Linked DNA regions of Homo sapiens: region 1 is linked to region 2. The links come from fine-mapping of genetic effects on gene expression. A gene starts in region 2. The other region holds a variant in brackets. All regions are shown on one strand. Distances are between the middles of the regions.

The links.
Region 1: its variant is fine-mapped to the expression of PRR5 in whole blood (TOPMed, PIP above 0.99).

Annotation. Positions count from the first base shown.
Region 1 is chr22:44,723,289-44,731,964 of GRCh38, forward strand. PRR5 (proline rich 5) reads left to right here. Exons shown (of 8, transcript NM_181333.4): 3 at 1,956-2,004; 4 at 3,289-3,346; 5 at 8,442-8,533. PRR5-ARHGAP8 (PRR5-ARHGAP8 readthrough) reads left to right here. Exons shown (of 15, transcript NM_181334.6): 3 at 1,956-2,004; 4 at 3,289-3,346. Among named protein-coding and RNA genes, the nearest start is that of ARHGAP8, 25 kb to the right of the region's middle. RefSeq lists enhancers at 521-815, 1,397-1,898. The variant C/G (reference allele first, on the strand shown) is at 4,673.
Region 2 is chr22:44,698,021-44,706,696 of GRCh38, forward strand. It overlaps PRR5 (proline rich 5), which reads left to right and starts at 4,184. Exons shown (of 8, transcript NM_181333.4): 1 at 4,184-4,588. The coding sequence starts at 4,455. It overlaps PRR5-ARHGAP8 (PRR5-ARHGAP8 readthrough), which reads left to right and starts at 4,184. Exons shown (of 15, transcript NM_181334.6): 1 at 4,184-4,588. The coding sequence starts at 4,455. RefSeq lists an enhancer at 1,269-1,809 and a silencer at 4,058-4,467.

The sequences.
Region 1 (8,676 bases), 25 kb after region 2:
TTGTCAGAACATTGAAAGCTGTTGTACTGTTGGTCTATTGGTTATAAACATAACCAACGTATTTTACTGTTTGGTTATAACCATACAGAGAAATGAAAAAGATTGTATAGTAAAATGAATATTTAGTGCACTATAATTTAAAACATTGGGGCCAGGTGCAGTGGCTCACGCCTGTAATCCCAGCACTTTGGGAGTCCGAGGCAGGTGGATCACCTCAGGTCAGGAGTTTGAGACCAGCCTGGCCAACATGGTGAAACCCTGTCTCTACTAAAAATACAAAAATTAGCTGGGCGTGATGGTATGCGCCTGTAATCCCAGCTACTGGGGAGGCTGAGGCAGGAGATTCACTTGAACCTGGGAGGTGGAGGTTGCAGTGAGCCAAGATCGCACCACTGCACTCCAGCCTGGGTGACAGAGTGAGATTCCATCTCCAAAAATAAAAATAAAAAATAAAACAGTGGGAACATAGTACTTTGAGCAGTGTTTGCCCGTTCAGAACATGATCATTTTTCATTGATGTGCTGCACTTCCATCTGTGTTGGCCAGTTGCTTTTTCTTGTATCCATTTTTACAGAATGCCACATGGGTTTCACACTGGCAGACAAGGAGGCAACACAGGTCACAATTTGCTGTCTGTGCATGAACTGCTGACAGATACTTAGGGACCAATCAGAGACTGACTTTGAAAGAAGTGTTGCAATTGGTCAGTGATCATTGTACACATCTGTTATCTACATTTTGATTTGTGGACTGGAGAGCGGGCAGCAGAGCTTGTACTTAACCAGGATAACTGAAACTTGTATGTATCAGAACCATGCAAAGAGAGGACTGCCTATAATTCAGGACTGATTAGAAAGTTTTCCTAGGCCGGGTGTGGTGGCTCATACCTGTAATCCCAACACTTTGGGAGGCCAAGGCGGGTGGATCACTTGAGGTCAGGAGTTCGAGACCAGCCTGGCCAACATGGTGAAACCCCGTCTCTACTAAAAATACAAAAATTAACTCGGCCTGGTGGCGCATGCCTGTAGTCCCAGCTACTCAGGAGGCTGAGGCAGGAGAATCGCTTGAACCCGGGTTCACCGCAACCTCTAGGTTGAGATTGTGCCACTGTACTCCAGCCTGGGTGACAAAGCAAAACTTCGTCTCAAAAAGAAAAAAAAAAAGTTTTCCTAAAGGGAATAGCAACCTAAAAAGTAAGATTTCTGATGTATTTGGTTCAGAAGACTGTTGGGAGGTCATATCTGGGGCCTCAGCGCTGACAGTGCCTGTGTACTTTCAGCCTGGCTGGTGTGGAATGTGGTGCTCCCATTCTCTCAGGCCCTGGAGGTATGTAGGGAGGGAAGGAGGAATTGTCAGTGTTGAGTGCCAAGGTGGAGGTTCAGATCTCAGCTCTGGCGTGTCCCATGTGGACCTGGTCTGGTGTCTTGACCTCTGCGAGCCTCTCTTGCCTCCCCTGTAATAAAAGGGGAACCCCGGTGAATGCCTGCGGCTGGGTTGGTGAAGACTGAATGAGCTTCTCTGGAATAAAGAGTAAACACTTGGGAAGAAGCTCTGCAGGCGGAGAGAGGAGGAGCCCGTGGCATCCGGGATTTGGACAGGTGGAAGGCAGGAGCAAACCAAGTGTTGCAGGCCCAGCCCTGCCAGGTGTCTCTCCAGAAGGTGTGAGACGCAGAGGCCACTGTCTTCCCTCTGAGGACCCCTTGGCTTCCTCTGCTATGACATGAGTGCAGGGATCTAGTTGATGAGCTGCCACTGCGGACCATGGAGGCCCCGGTTGTGTGGCCGACCCAGCCCCTGCAGGTCTGGACAGGTGGGACCTGTCCACTACCCATGTTTTTGGGCTGGCTGAGCATGCTGATCTCCCCCTGCCCAGGAGGCCCCACCCCAGTCCGTGGGTCCCCCATGCCAGTGCCGTGTGGTCTGGGACTCACTCTTGTCTCACCTCCCACCCACAGGCAGCTGTTGAAGACAGAGCTGGGGTCCTTCTTCACGGAGTACCTGCAGGTAGGTGGGTCTTGCTCCAGCCAGGCTGGGCCTGCCTCATGAGCCAGCCAGAAAGCACAGGGGCTCACCTGCCCCCGGGGGTGTGGAGCGCCGGCTCCCCCACTGTCTGCCTGCAGTTCCAAGGACCTGCCTCGTTCCTTATCTAGCCACGTGGAATGTTGTGGAGGTTAAATGATAAGATGAGGTGAATTCTTTTTTGAGATAGTCTCACTCTGTCATCCAGGCTGGAGTGCAATGGCGTGATCCCAGCTCACCGCAACCTCCACCTCCTGGCTTCAAGTGATTCTCACACCTTAGCCTCCTGATTAGCTGGGATTACAGGTGCCCACCATCACGCCTGGCTAATTTTTGTTTTTTGTCTTTTGTTTTGTTGTTGTTGTTGTTGTTGTTGAGATGGAGTCTTGCTCTGTTGTCCAGGCTGGAGTGCAGTGGCGCGATCTCAGCTCACTGCAACCTCTGCCTCCCGGGTTCAAGCGATTCCCCTGTTTCAGCCTCCCCAGGAGCTGGGATTACAGGTACCCACCATCTTGCCCAGCTAATTTTTGTATTTTTGTAGAGACAGGATTTCACCATGTTGGCCAGGCTGGTCTCAAACTCCTGACCTCGAGGTGATCTGCCCGCCTCAGCCTCCCAAAGTGCTGGGATTACAGGCGTGAGCCACCGCGCCCGACCAATTCTGTACATTTCATATTGGTGGCATAACACGGCCTGCGGACTTTTGTCTGGACTCTTTCTCTTAGCATCAGGTTCTTTCTCATTGGAGCACAAGCCAGTGCTTCATTTCTTTGTGTGGAGATGGGCTGCATTTTGTGGTCCATGCTTTCATTGGCGGGTGCTTGGGTTGCTGAGACCACACAGCGTGGTTCTTGGCCGAGCCACCCCAGGCAGTGCGTCCAGGGTCCCTGAGGTAGGATGGCAGCTGACGGGCCCGGCCTTTGGTAATCAGAGTCACCTCTTGATGCAAAGTCCTTTCTTCACTGTGGGACATGCCAGGCTTCTGCCTGCCCAGCTGAGCCCAGTGCAAGGAGCTCTAGGCCCTGCCCACCTCTCGGGATGTCCGTGTGACCACCTCCTGTCTCGTGACAACCCGGGGTTGGGTCAGTTACCCTCCTGGATGAACTGATGCTCAGGCCCTGCAGCAGGTGGACTGTGGGACCTCAGTGAGTCTCCTCCCCCTTTAAGCCTTGGCTGCTCACTGGTGGATGGACTCTCGGGGGCCCTGCTGGCCAGGACACCCCCGGGCATCCACAAGGGCGGTGACAGCCCCTCTGTGTTTACCTTCAGAACCAGCTGCTGACAAAAGGCATGGTGATCCTTCGGGACAAGATTCGCTTCTATGAGGGTGAGTGTGGGCCCCTTGGCGGCCACTCTGGGCCATGCTGGGTCCTGGCTGGCTGCTGGACTGCTGGGCCTCGTGCTGGGGGCCTCTGGGTGCAAGGTGTGGCTCTCTGGTCCGGAGGGCTTGGAAGGAACACGTATAGCCTTAGGGCAGCAGGGCCGAGATCCTTACCCAGAGGGAACCCTGGGAGAGGGTCTGCCCCCCGAACTTGCTGGAGCCCAGGAGGGCTATGAGACATCGGGGAAAAGCCCCCTGCTTCCCCTCCCTGCCCACGGGACTTTCTGGCCCTAGTGAGCTCTGTCCCCGCAGCCTGGGAGAGCCCCTGTCCTGGTCTTTGGGGGTCAGAGGAGAAGTCGGTTAGGGCTGAGGTCACCGATACTCACAGAGGAGGGGACAGGGTGGGGGACTCAGCTGAATTTTCTCTGTCGAGGCTCACAGCCACCCACTGGGACCTTCAGGTTATTGTTCCTGAGTGGGAGAGTACAGTGATGATAAGTGATTTGCCCAAGGCTACAGTGCACATCAGGGGTGGGGGCGGGACTCAAACCCAGGTCTGCCTGACTTTAGGGCACACACCCTTTGCCCTTCTCACGGCCCGGAGGTCCCCGCTGGCCTCACTGTGCAGGTTGGGCTTCCCGTGGCCGAGAGCCTCGGGCAGCAGCAGCAGCGTGCGCATCCTTGCAGGAGCGAGCTGCCCTGGGAGCGGGGTCAGGTGAGGGGGTCCACTCAGTTCCCACGGATGCTGCTTTGCTCGGGCTGTGCTGGGATCGGGCCTGCGCTGTACCCGTGTGTTGAGCACCTGTGCACTAGGCACCGGGTGTGTGCGTCCCTCCGTGCTGGACTGCCCCGAGTGTTTCACATCTACTAACTCATTTGATTTCCACAACCCTGTGAAGAAGCCACCGTTGTTAGCACTGAATGAATGGGGAAAGTGAGGCACGGTGTCCTGCCCAGGCCACACAGCTGCACCGTGGCAAGGCCAGGGTGCCAAGCAGGCCACCGGGTCCCGAACCCATACTCTTCACTCTGCTGCCCCAGGCTCCTCCTCCAGGTCTCCCTCTGACCCTGGGAAAAAGAGCTACTAGCCCACTCCACAGAGAAGGACACAGGCCCGGAGGCCTGGCATGTTCCAGGGGACCTTGGAGCTGCGTGTCATGGTCCTTCCTCACGTCCACTGAACATGTTGGGTGGGGCCAGCCAAGACAGGAACACAAAGAGAGGCCATGAAAACCATCAGACCGTCGGGGAGACATGGGGGTTCTGGGAAGGCTTCCTGGAGGAGGCAACATCTAGACTGGCAGGACAGAGCTGTGAGCATTTGGCACCTGA[C/G]GAAGATGGCCACCCACGCCCCTCGCTTGATGCGGCACATTCTGGCGGTGCCTGTACCTCCCACCAGATCTGGCCTAGGGGAGCCGGGGCTCTCGGAGAAGGGAGTTTTGTGTGGCTTGAAAGGAGCTCTGCGTGGGACAGCCAGGTCTGCCAGGCCTCCCAGCAGGGGTGCCTGCCCAGCAGAAGGGGCAGAGGACAGCCCTGGGAGGCCCAGCATCCTCTTCTGCCTCGCCAGCCCTTCCTGGCCTCCCCAGGTCTCAGGGACAGGCACTGGGCTCTACGCTGGGAGTCTGAGGCCCTGGCCTCCAGTTCCCATGTAGCTGCAGACACAGGGTTTCCTCTCCAGCCTCAGCACCCCTGTCTTAGCAATGTGGGGTTGAACAGGCTCTGTCCACTTGAGTGTTCTCTACATGTCAGGCCCAGGTGACCTCTGGGAGCCCAGAGATGGAGGAGAACCTGGCCCTGCCCTTCAGGGACTCACAGCCCAATTGGGGACACAGACACGGACCCGAGGGTGACAGTTGAGTGTGATTAATGTCATTGTGAAGGAGTGTCCTGGGGAAGAAAGGGTTCATTCCACCTTGGCAGTCAGAGAGGGCTGCATGGAGGCAGTGGCCCTTGAGTAGGGCCTCAAAGTGTGGTCTGTTCAGGGGAACTTGTGGTCCCTTTTGGCCCCATGCAGTGGGGACATAGCCACCTCCACATCCTGATGGGCGGCCTCAGGGGCCTCCCCCTTCCTGCTCCCTACCCCTGCTTGGGTTCCACTGGGAGCTCTTCACTTTGAGCCTGCTCCTTGCAGCTGTCCCTACAGAGCCTCTACCAGAGGTGGGTGATGGCCCCCTGTGGGGAAGCCCCAGGACCTTGCCCCCTGCCCCTTCTCAGCCTCCAGGGAGGCCTTGGACTTCAGCCCCTGGGCAGAGCCGGTCCTGGAAGCGGAGAGCCTGGAGGAGTGGCCTTGAGGTGGAGGGCTGCCTCCCTAGGAAGGGGAGGAAGACTGGACCGCGGCCGGGGTTGTAGTTTGATGGCCTGTGTGTGGCTTAAGGGAATCGGCTCCAGCTGCAGCCAAGCAACTCCTTGGAAGCCAGAAACTTGGGAACTCTGGGCGGGAGCTCCTGGTCCTCTGCTGGGCCCTGGGATCTGCCGTCGCTCATCCACCAGGGAATCCAAACCCGGTATGGGTCACGTGACCCAGCTGTGCTGCCTTACACGCTTGCCTCCATGCCTGTGCCTCGGCCGTCCCCGCGCCAGACACCCTTGACCTGGTCCACCCAGCGCGTGGCTTTTGTCACTGCCCTGCGCTCCTCACTGTTCCTGAGTCTCCCGACGGGCTGAAACAGGGTTGTTGGTTTGCAGGGCCTGCACAGGGCCCTCAGCACTCGGATAAAGAAAGGAAAGACGGACACCAGCCTGCGCCCACAGCGAGAACCCCAGAGTGGGAGCCAGCACGGAGCCAAGGCTACTGCGGGGCCGCTCGCCTGCATCAGCCCCTGCTACTGCCAGGCTGGAGCCAAGGTACGGCGCGCACACACCCGGCCCCGTCCTGCCGGCAGCAAACGCCCAGTGCTGTTTCATCTCAGCTTTCGACCTGCCCACGTGGGGACGTGTATCACGCCCCTTTCATAGAGGATGCCACTGAGTCCGCCTGGAGGAACTTCCTGGGGTCGCCCCATACCTGCCTCCGACTAACCCTACTGCCCCACAGAGGGGCCCCCACAGGACAGGCCCCGGCAGAGAGCCCCAACAGCCGCGAGGCTGCCCTTCCTGGCCTCTCGTCACCGTGTGGCTCCAGCTGGGGCCTGGATTCTGTTTTACAACATCTGCTTTCCGCAGCATTTCCGCCCCGTGGGCTGGAGAACAGCCTGCGCTGAGCAGAACGCAGGCCTGGCCGGTGCCCAGAGCCACCCCCCGGCCAGCCCGGGAACTGAGCTGCCTTTCTTCCTGCCGCGGCGGAGGGGGACTGAAGGGACTTTGTGTGTGGGCACAGTTCGGCGGGGCGGTGAGCATCCATCCGTCCGGGGCATTCCTGCTGGCCCCCATCACCCTCAGAGCCAGGTTTGGGCTACCCGGGTGGGCAGAGGGCTGGCCACTGGGCTGGGAGCCAAAGATGGGACCCAGTCCAGCTCGGCCCCAGCCCCCAGGGCTGCCCCTGGCGGGGTCCCACTCCTAGTGCCCTCGAACCTACATGAAGCTGGGGGCTTCCGGGAGTGGGGGCAGGGCCCAGAGAGTGAGAAAAAGGCAAAGGTCCCTGTTCAGCCTCCGCATTCCCATGGAAACCTCAAAGCAGTTCTGGCCGGGGGCGCAGCCTGAGAGACAGCCGGCAACGCTTCCCTCTTCACTCAGAGGCGCCCACACCAAGATCTCTCTCGCCAGTTGTTCGTCTGGCTTCCAGGGGACAGCAGAGGCCTTGGGGACACGTCCTTGGACTGTGCATCCCTGGACCCAGCAGCCCTCATCCCAGCTCCGCTCAGTCCAGGCAGAAAGGCCAAGGGTTCTTCACGTTGCCTCTCCCACTGGAACCCAGAGCCAGCTTGGGCAGCTGTCCCCGTCCCACAAGGGTCACTCACCTGGTGCATGGCACCGTTCCTCTCAAGGCCAGCAGAAATCCTACAGAGCTGGTCCCGATGTCTGCTACCTACGTATCTGTTTCAGAGACTCACCTGTCAAGATGTGTCCCCATACCACTACGTCTGGCAAGCCCAGCTCCTATAGCCAGCTTGGATGCTCTTCCTCCAGGAAGCCCTCCCTGCCTGACCCTCTGCACCCTCTTCTTCCTTCGACGTGGTGCTGCTATTGGAAGGGGTCTCCGTGGATCCCCAGACCTGACCACAGGCAGAGCTGGCCTGGCCCTGGGTCCTCTGGGCCACTGACTGTGGTGCACCCTTTCCTCGGAGGCTCAGCCTCTGTCTGCTTGGTGGGGGGTCGATCACCCCTGGCTACTGCCCTTATGATCCTGCTCAGTGTCCCACTTCCCTGTCATGTGATGGATGGGCAGCTGTTTGGGGCTCAGCTGGGTCCCCAGTGCCCAGCATCAGCGCCAGCACACAGTAGGTGTTCTGTGTTTGTTGGAGGGGCAGATAGTGTGGGGGAAGGAGGGAGGAGGTCGGTGGGTAGAAGAAATCAACTGCTTAGCCGGGTTGTTAGGAGGATCTGATGAGACTAGGATGTGAGTTGAAACTGCTGTGCCAGGCACACCTGTGTGGGTCTCACTTGTGCCAGGCATACCTGCGTGGGTCTCACCTGTGTAGGTCTCACCTGTGCCAGGTGTACCTGTGTGGGTCTTACCTGTGCAGGTCTCCTGATGCAGGTCTCACCTGTGCCGAGTGTACCTACCTGTGCGGGTCTCACCTGTGTCAGGCGTACGTGTAGGGGTCTCACCTGTGAACGTCTCACCTGTGCCAGGTGTATACCTGTGTGGCTCTCACTTGTGTGGGTCTGGTATGTGACAAAGGCCTGGGAATTGGCAGCTGTCATCTGCCAGGAGCAGACCCTGAGCCAAGTTCCCTGTGCCTTAGGCTCATTTCATGCCCTCAGCTCTGGGAGGCCAATCCCTTTACTGCCACATTTTATAAATGGAAGACTGAGGTTAAGCAGTGGGCCCAGGGCCATAGAACAGCTGAGCTGTGGAGCTGGACATCGACCTTGGGCAGGTGCTGCCAGGGGCCTGAGCCCAGGCCCTCCACTCCCGCATCCTCTGATGACCCATCCTGGGTGAGTGGAGGCATCTGCCCGCGCCAGTCAGGCCCAGTGGTGATGGCCCCCATGCCCACAGGACAGAAGCTGCTGGACTCACTGGCAGAGACCTGGGACTTCTTCTTCAGTGACGTGCTGCCCATGCTGCAGGCCATCTTCTACCCGGTGCAGGTGGGCAGCCCAGCCCTGGGGAGGGAAGCCCAGTGCCCCTGCTGTGCCCACCCTGGCCTCACTCTACAGAGGGGGGCCGCCAGGCTTGGGGACACACACACCTGCTCTGCTCTGTGCTGCTCTCCTTGGGCTACCTGAGTTGC
Region 2 (8,676 bases):
CCCGGGTTCATGAGCTGCCCTGACTTACTGGTCTGTTCCTGTCCCCTGGGTGTCCAGCCGGGGCTGAGCCAGGCTTAGGGATTGCAGGCCCTTCAGAAGGGTAGTTCTGAGGATATCAGGGTCCCCCTTGGTGACCAAGGGGATCCTCTACCAGCTGCCGACACCCCACTGGCCAGGGGGAGTTTGGAATGAGTTTGGGTCCTGGGGAGGAGAGGACGTGGTTGATGCCATCGGGCCTGGCACCTTCCTGGAGCAGGGGCCACTCTGGTGGCTTTGGGGATGTGTGAATGAGTCTGGAGCAGGGGTGGCTCTGGTGGCTTTGGGGTTGTGTGAATGAGTCTGGAGCAGAGGTGGCTCTGGTGGCTTTGGGGATGTGTGAATGAGTCTGGAGTGGGGGCCACTCTGGTGGCTTTGGGGATGTGTGACTGAGTCCCTTTGTCTCTCATTTCCTTAACAGAGGGACATTTCCCTTCCCTGGTCTCAGACACAAATGAGCCCTGCCCAGGGTACCCCGCCACAATACAATTGCTGGGTCCCCCAGCCCCCTCCTCAGACCCAGAAAGCCCCATAAGTGAGAGGAGGGCCCGGTGGGCACCTGGAGGCCTTGTGCCTGCTGGCAGGGGCAGTAGCCGGGTGGGAGCTGTCACGTGGGGCTCAGGCCCAGCAAGACTGTCACCTGATGCTTCAGGGCGGCCAGAATCCGGGTTTCTGTGTCAATCTCTCCGTTGTAAAATGTTGTAAGATGTTGGCCGCACGCAGTTTGGTTTATTTTCCTCCGACGCTGCAGGCCACACAGAGCACACTTAGGGGCTAGACTCCGCCCTTTGTCCCCCAGTTGCCCCCTGCTCTGAGGGTTTGTGACAGCTCTGTCCCCTTGTGGCCTCTGCCTGGGGTTTCTGGCCCCGGGGCAGCCCCGCAGCTGTGCCCTCTCTGCCTGTCACGGCCCAAACCCAGAGCACTAGCACCTTTGCTTGAGCCTCCACTGCCCTCCTGGCGCTGGGCTGTTGGGTGTAGACAGATTTTACACATCTGTGGCTGGGGCCAGGGAGAGGTTATAGCTAATTCCTTAACGCTGACTAGAGATGCCTTTTTTAAAGATCTCTTTAAAATTCCTCAGCCATCCCCACCTCCGGAATTTCTGGCTGGCCGCTTCTCCCAGATGCCTACAGCATTCCCAGCCCCCTGTTTCCCTCCTCCTGCCTCCCACCTCGGGCTGCCCATTTCTCTCTGATTTCTTATCCCAAGCAGTCAGGCCTCCCTCCCTCTCTGGAGCTGGCCCCTCCTGCCAGCCAGGCCCTGCCTGTGGTCAGCAAGCTTGGGACCAGGCTGTGCTGAGCCCACAAAGCCAGTCCTCTCCTGAGAGCCAGCCTCCGGCGTGGGAAACCATTTCATCCCATCCGGATCCCTGGCGGTTCTGCTTTGCTGCGTTTACACCAGTGGCCATGACGGAGATTCTCGCTCACATCTGTCCAGCCTGGGCACTTTTATGAGGCATTTTCACCAGTGGGGTCCAATGTAATCCCTTTATTCTTATGAGATAAATGTTCATCCATCCGTTAAACCAAATATCTATGAAGCACCCAGTCTGTGCTAGGCACGGGGACTGTAGCAGTGAACAAGTTGTTACGGTTCTTGCCCTCCTGGCTTATGGCATAGGATGGAAAAAAAGTCATCGGGTGACAACAGGACGCCCCCTGAGCCTAATTGAGAGTGAAGGCGGTCAGAGACAGGGGCAACTAACTTCTCTGAAAGACGTTCTAGGGCAGGGGAGGGACCCGCAGCTGGAGGGCAAGCAGGTCTCAAAGGCCCCTCCGAGGAGTCAAGGATCTGGGCTTTATCCTCTGTTTTCATTCTTTTCAGAGACAATTCAGTACATGCTTTAGTATTTTTATATGTTTTTTGTTGTTGTTTTTGTTTTTTTTTTTACAGCAGTAAGGTAGGAAATCCTTGTCTGGCCATGAAATTTGGTTTGGGATCTAAAAGATACAGTGTTCCCGTAAGTTTGAGAGCGTGGGCTAGGCACAGTAGTTCATGCCTGTAATCCTAACACTATGGGTGGCCAAAAGTGGGAGGACTCCTTGAGTCCAGAAGTTTGAGACCAGCCTGGGCAACATAGCAAGACCTTGTCTCTATTACAAAATTTTTTAAAAATTAGCCAGGGAGCCGGGCACAGTGGTTCATTCTTGTAATCCCAGCACTTTAGGAGGCCGAGGTGGGAGGATCACCTGAGGTCAGGAGTTTAAGACCAGCCTGGCCAACATGGTGAAACCCCATCTCTACTAATAAATAAAAAAATCAGCCAGGCGTGGTGGTAGGTGCCTATAATCTCAGCTACTCACTAGATTGAGGCAGGAGAATCACTTGAACCTGGGAGGCAGAGGTTAGCAGTGAGCCATGATTGCGCCATTGCACTCCACAGGCGACAAGAGCGAAACGCCATCACACACGCAAAAAATCAGCCAGGCATGGTGGCACATGCCTTGTAGTCCCAGCTATTCAGGAGGCTAACGTGGGAGGGTTGCTTGAACCCAGGAGGTAGAGGCTGCAGTGACCACAGTGGTGCCACTGCATTCAACCTGGGCCAAAAAGTGAGACTCTGTCTCAAAAAGAAAAGAAAACGTGTACAGCACTTGACAGTTAGTTTATAAAGCACCTGTTGCTGCCTGTGGGCCCCAAGCTGCCTGTGAGATGAACCGTTCCATCCCGCTTTACTGATGAGCAAGTTTGTCTGTTTATGTCTCTGTCTCCCAAAGACGATGGTATTTATGTCTGGAACACAGGAGGTACTCAGGAGACACTGGTTGATTTGCACTAAACAAAGACTCTTCATGAGGCTCTCTTACTTTTTATTTTATTTTATTATGATGATGATGATTTTTGAGACGGAGTTTTGCTGTTGTTGCCCAGGCTGGAGTGCAGTGGCGAGATCTCAGCTCTCTGCAACCTCTGCCTCCCAGGTTCAAGCGATTCTCCTGTCTCAGCCTCCTGAGTAGCTGGGATTACGGGCATGCACCACCACGCCCAGCTAATTTTGTATTTTTAATAGAGATGGGGTTTCTCCATGTTGGCCGGGCTGGTCTTGAACTCCTGACCTCAGGTGATCCTCCCACCTCGGCCTCCCAAAGTGCTGGGATTACAGGCATGAGCCATCACCTCTCTCTTACATTTTATATGGGGCCCTCCCAGCTCCTGGAGCTGTGGCTGTCACCCCCCATCTGATGGAGGGGTCAGGTGAGCCTTGTGGGAATCCCAGAAGCTGGGGACTGGGAAGGGCCCTGTTCAAGGGGCTGGACGCTCCCTGTGGTGAAGCCCAACTCTACCATTTGTTGATTGCACAATGTTGGCACAATGTTGGGCAAGTTATTTCACTCTGTGAGCCTCAATGTCCTCAACTGGAAAATGGGGAGAAGAATAATCTCTACCTCACGGAAGTAGTTCATGTTAGTTCATGTGAAATCAGACATCTAAAAGTGCTCTGCGAAGCAGGCAGGAAGCACCGGCTGTGCCCTGCCTTCACTGGGATCACTCTGCCCCCACCACAGGGACTTGGGAAACTGCTTGGTTTTACCATCCAAGAGACCTGGGGGTGGGAGATAAGGAGCAAACCCTCTACTTCTTCAAGCCCTCACTCCAGCAAATCCTCCAGGCAGCCAGGCAATGCTGAAGTCCCTGTCCAAGGGGGTCTAGGCTGAGCCCGGGTGGAGTGGGTTCTTGGGCCAAGGTGCCTGGAGGGGACTGAAGGCCTCTACCCAAAGTCCTCATGAGAACTGGGTGGGGGAGCCTGTGTTCAGGTGAGGGGTACGGAGGCACCTCTGTGGCACAGCCTTTGCGAGGAGGGCTGTGGAGGGAGACCTCCGGGGCCGGGGTCGAAGGACATCGTGTGGGCGCGACCGCAGTGCTGGGCGGGGGGCGGGCGCTTGGGCTTGGGCCCTGCGTCCTGTGCGTGTTGGTTTCCTGTGGGCACGTGGGGCCCTCGGAAGAGGGGAGGAGGGTGAGCACGTCCTCAGAGGGCAGACCCAGCGAGGCGTCGTGGCAGCTGCGGCCGCGGAGACGCCGGCTCCGCCTCTTGCACACGCCCCCTCGCCTGAGGCCCCGCCCCGCCCGCGATGCCCCCGCCCCCTTCCCCGCCCCGCCCCCCGGGGCGCCGAGACCCGCCCCTGGGCCCGCCCCCGGGTCCGCCCCCGGCCTCCGTTTGCGCCGGGTCTGTGCTGGCCGCGCGCCTGGCGCTCCACGCTGAGCCTCTCCGTGCAATGATTAACCCGGCGGGGCGGCCGGCGCGGGACCCGAGACGGAGGCGCGGGGCCGGGGCGGGACCCCGCAGGACCGCTCGGCTTCCTGCTCTCGCCGGAGTTTCCGCGTAGAGGGCGCATCGCCGGCCCGGGGCCCTTGGTGCGGCGTGGCGCAGGGCGCGGCGTGGGGCGCGCGTGGGCGCGGCGCAGGCGGCCCGGGTCACCATGAGGACTCTCCGCAGGTTGAAGTTCATGAGTTCGCCCAGCCTCAGTGACCTGGGCAAGAGAGAGCCGGCCGCCGCCGCGGACGAGCGGGGCACGCAGCAGCGCCGGGCCTGCGCCAACGCCACCTGGAACAGGTAAGGCCGCGCCCTCCCGGCCACCCGGAGGCCCTGGAGCCGGGGGAGGGGACCCCTGAGCCGTCCGCGGGCTAGGGGCCGCCCCGAGCCAGGAACGCTGCCGAAGGCGGCGCGGCGCTTCACAGTTTGCAAAGAACTTGCCCCGCCGGAGTGGTGCGGGCCTGGAGGAAAGTTCAGTGCAGCGTGGTTCCAGAACCCAGGGAAGGGAGCGAGGCCCGCCAGCGCCCGGGGCTGGCCCAGAAGCGCCCGGCGGGTGGGCGGCGGGGTGGGCCGGGAAGCCGCGTGCCCGCCTCCTACCCGGGGTCTTTCCACGTCTCCACTGCGGTGCTCGTGACAACCTGGGAGGCTAACGGAGCAGGAAGTATTTTTCCCATTTTGCGGCTGAGCACGGGAGCCTCGGGGCTCAGTGGGTGGGTCGCGCAGGCTTCCTGTGTCTCTTTAAGCTCCCTTCGGCTTTCCCTTGAGAGGCCCCCTGTCCTCCAGCTGTCAGCAGGGGGTGCGGCAGCTGCGAGGCATTCTTTAGAGGACTCTCCTCCAGGGGTCATTCCCAGACAAGCAGGGGCCTGGGAAGCCCCTTCTCCCAGCTTTGTTTGAGGAGCAAGTCCGGGATCTGGAAAAGAGACGGTTTATTTAGTGGAACTCCCCAGCGTCTCTGCTCCCTAGGAAAATGAGAGGCAGGAGAAAGTGAGGCAGGCTGTTCGCGGGAGGCAGTGGACACTGTTCGGGGGAGGCTGTGGACACTGTTCGGGGGAGGCTGTGGACGTTGCCCCTCTCGCGCCCACACCTGGCAGTAAAATCTTGCCAGATGCTCCACCGGCTGTGGTCTTGGCCACCGGGAACCCGGCTGTCACTTGGACACACGTTATTTTCAGTTCATTGAATGCATTGTGAGCGTCATGGTGGGCTCAGGGCTGCCAGCGAGACCCTCTTCAAACGTGGTCTCTTCTGTCTCTGAGTTGCAAACTGCTAGAGGGCTGTCACATGCCTGCCTCCGTTTCCCTCTCCGTCAGTGGGTATTCGCATTCCTCCCTGTGGGGAGGGCTGGTGTGGGAACAGTGAAGGAAGGACTCCTGTTGGGAAATCTCCCTGACCCAACGACTGCACAGTGTCTTAAGAGCTGTGTTCTCCACCAGGCACGGCGGCTCACACCTGTAATCCTAGCACTTTGGGAGGCCAAGATGGGAGGATTACTTGAGCCAGGGAAGTCGAGGCTGCCATGAGCCATGATGCCACCACTGCACTCCAGCCTCGGTGACAGAGCAAGACCCTATCTCAAAAAAAAAGAAGAGCAGTGTTCTCCTCCAGTATTGAGATGAAAGCCATCTCTCTGTCCTTGAATCTCTGCCGTGATTTAGAGGAAAGAGTTAAATAGACTTATTTCAAATCCCAACTCTGCCTCTTCCCTACTCTGTGGTCTTGAGCAAGTCAGGTCCTCAATTTCCTTATCCATAAAACGGGCAGATAACAGTGCCCACCTCATGGGGCTGTTGTAGGGATGAAATTTGAACATGCAAAATAAAGCCCTCAACACAGTGCTTAGCACATAGTAAGTCCTCTGTACCTCACAGCTCAACCCCAGACTCACGCAGTGGACCAGTGTCGGGGTGTCCCTGTAGGGATGGCATTTGGAGGGCTCCACAGGAATCAGTCAGTTCCTGAGCACCCACTGACAGCCACTTGGTGAGCTCCCTCCCACCCCCGAGGTGGGGCGTCCTGCTGCGGGTCCCCAGACAGGTGGGGGCACTGGCTGGTTGCTGGCTTAGACACTGCCCTCACCCAACCTTGGGTGACCCTGGAGTGGGCTCTGAGTCTCAAGTGTCTTCTCAGAGTTCAGGGAGGCCTCAGGGGGACTCTGCCTGAGCAACCCCCGCCCCACCAGATTTCACTCAGCAGCCTGGCAGATTGCAGAGAAATGCCAGCCCCTCCCCGCGGCACCTGCAGGGCTCCAGGTCTCCCAGCCCTTAGGCCTACATCAGCTCCCACCACCCCAGGCAGCAGGGGCACGGCCATTTCCTGCACTCCTCTTATGTGCCAGGCCCCAGGCCAGCCCCGTTCACTGCCCTTAACTGACTTTGCCACTCTCCTAGCCCAGCGAGGTATTACCAGCACCCCCCACCGAGAGATGCAGAAGGGCAGAGAGAGCACCCAGGAGACATGCCCAGCTCATCCATCACCTGCACAGGATGCAGCAGAGCCTGCGCCCCAGCTCTCCTCCCCAGCAGATGTGGGAGATGGAGCCAAGAGAAGGCAAACTGGCTTCACCAGCCAAGTCCCTGAGTGGAAACTGCAGGGAGCAGGGCACCCCTTCTGGTCCCTGTCTGCATGCTCCTGCTCCTAGCGGTGCTCCCTGCCAGGGCCCCCTAGGACAACAGATCTGTGCAGGGTCGGGGACAGGCGTGTCATTCTGCAGGGCCTGGCCGTGTACTCCTCATTATGAGTCCAAGACACACCCCCTTTTATCTGTGTGACTGTATTAGCTTCCCAGAGCTGCTGTAACAAAGACCACAAACTCGGTGGCCTAAAACAGCAGAAATTTGTTCCCTCACAGTTCTGGAGCCAGAAGCTTGAAGTCCAGGTGTCGCTCCCACCAGAGGCTCTAGGGGAGGAGCTTCTTGAAGCTTCTGGTGGCTCTTTGGCTTGTGGCTGCATCACTCCAATATGTACCTCCCCATGGCTTTCATTTCCACGTCCAAATCTCCCTCTCCTTTCTCTCTCTCTATTTTTTTTCCTTTCTTGAGACGGAGTTTCACTCTTGTCCAGGCTGGAGTGCAATGGTGTGATCTCAGCTCACTGCAGCTTCTGCCTCCTGGGTTCAAGCAATTCTCCTTCCTCAGCCTCTGGAGTAGCTGGGATTACAGGCGCCCACCACCACGCCCGGCTAATTTTTTGTACTTTTAGTAGAGACGGGGTTTTGCCATGTTGGTCAGGCTAGTCTCTAACTCCTGACCTCAGGTGATCTGCCCACCTCGGCCTCCCAAAGTGCTGGGATTACAGGTGTGAGCCACCGTGCCCAGCCTCTTTTTTGTTTTCTTTTGAGACGGAATCTTGCTCTGTCACCCAGGCTGGAGTGCACTGGTGCAATCTCAGCTCACTGCAACCTCCACCTCCCGGGTTCAAGTGATTCTCCTGTCGCAGCCTCCCTAATAGCTGGGATTACAGGCGTGCACCACCATGCCCAGCTAATTTTTGTTTTTGTTTTTGAGGTGGAGTCTCACTCTGTCACCCAGGCTGGAGTGCAGTGGTGCAATCTCAGCTCATTGCATTCTCCGCCCCCACAGGTTCAAGCAATTCTCCTGCTTCAGCCTCCCAAGTAGCTGGGATTGTAGGCGCCCACTACCATGCCACCATGCCCAGCTAATTTTTGTATTTTTAGTAGAGACAGGGTTTCACCGTGTTGGCCAGGCTACTCTCAAACTCCTGACCTCTGGTGATCCGCCTGCCTCAGCCTCCGGAAGTGCTGGGATTACAGGCATGAGCCACCACACCAGGCTCCCTCCCCTTTCTCTTGTAAAAACACTAGTTATTGGATTTAGGGCCCATCCTTAGTTAAGGATCATCTCCAGGTCCTTAATTAAATACCGCTGCAAAGACCCTATTTCCATCAAGTGTAAGGCTTGCTCTGTCATGAGAACTGAGTCATTGATTGATTGATTGATTCATTCATTCATTCGTTTATTCATTCATTCATTGACTGTGCCAGCACTGGGCTGCTCAGGGCATAGATTCAGCAGAGAACAGCCTCCTGGAGCTTAGAGTTCCCAGAGGGAGGCATTGGTAAATAAACAAGGAGGTAAGTAAATGCAGGTGGGCTTAGTGCTGGGAGGAAAGCAAACCAGGGGCCCTGGAGTGCTGAGCATTTCGCTGGGGTCTGCCTTCCATTCTTTCCTCCATGGATGTTGATTCTGTAGGTGTGCAGGAAATGTTTGGTTTTTCTCTTTTGAGAGAGGGTCTTGCTCTGTCACCCGGGCTGGAGTACAGTGGCACAATCATGGCTCAGGCAGCCTTGACTTCCCAGGCTCCAGCGATCCTCCCACCTCAGTCTCCCAAGTAGCTACAGGTGTGTGCCATCACACCGGCTAATTTTTTTT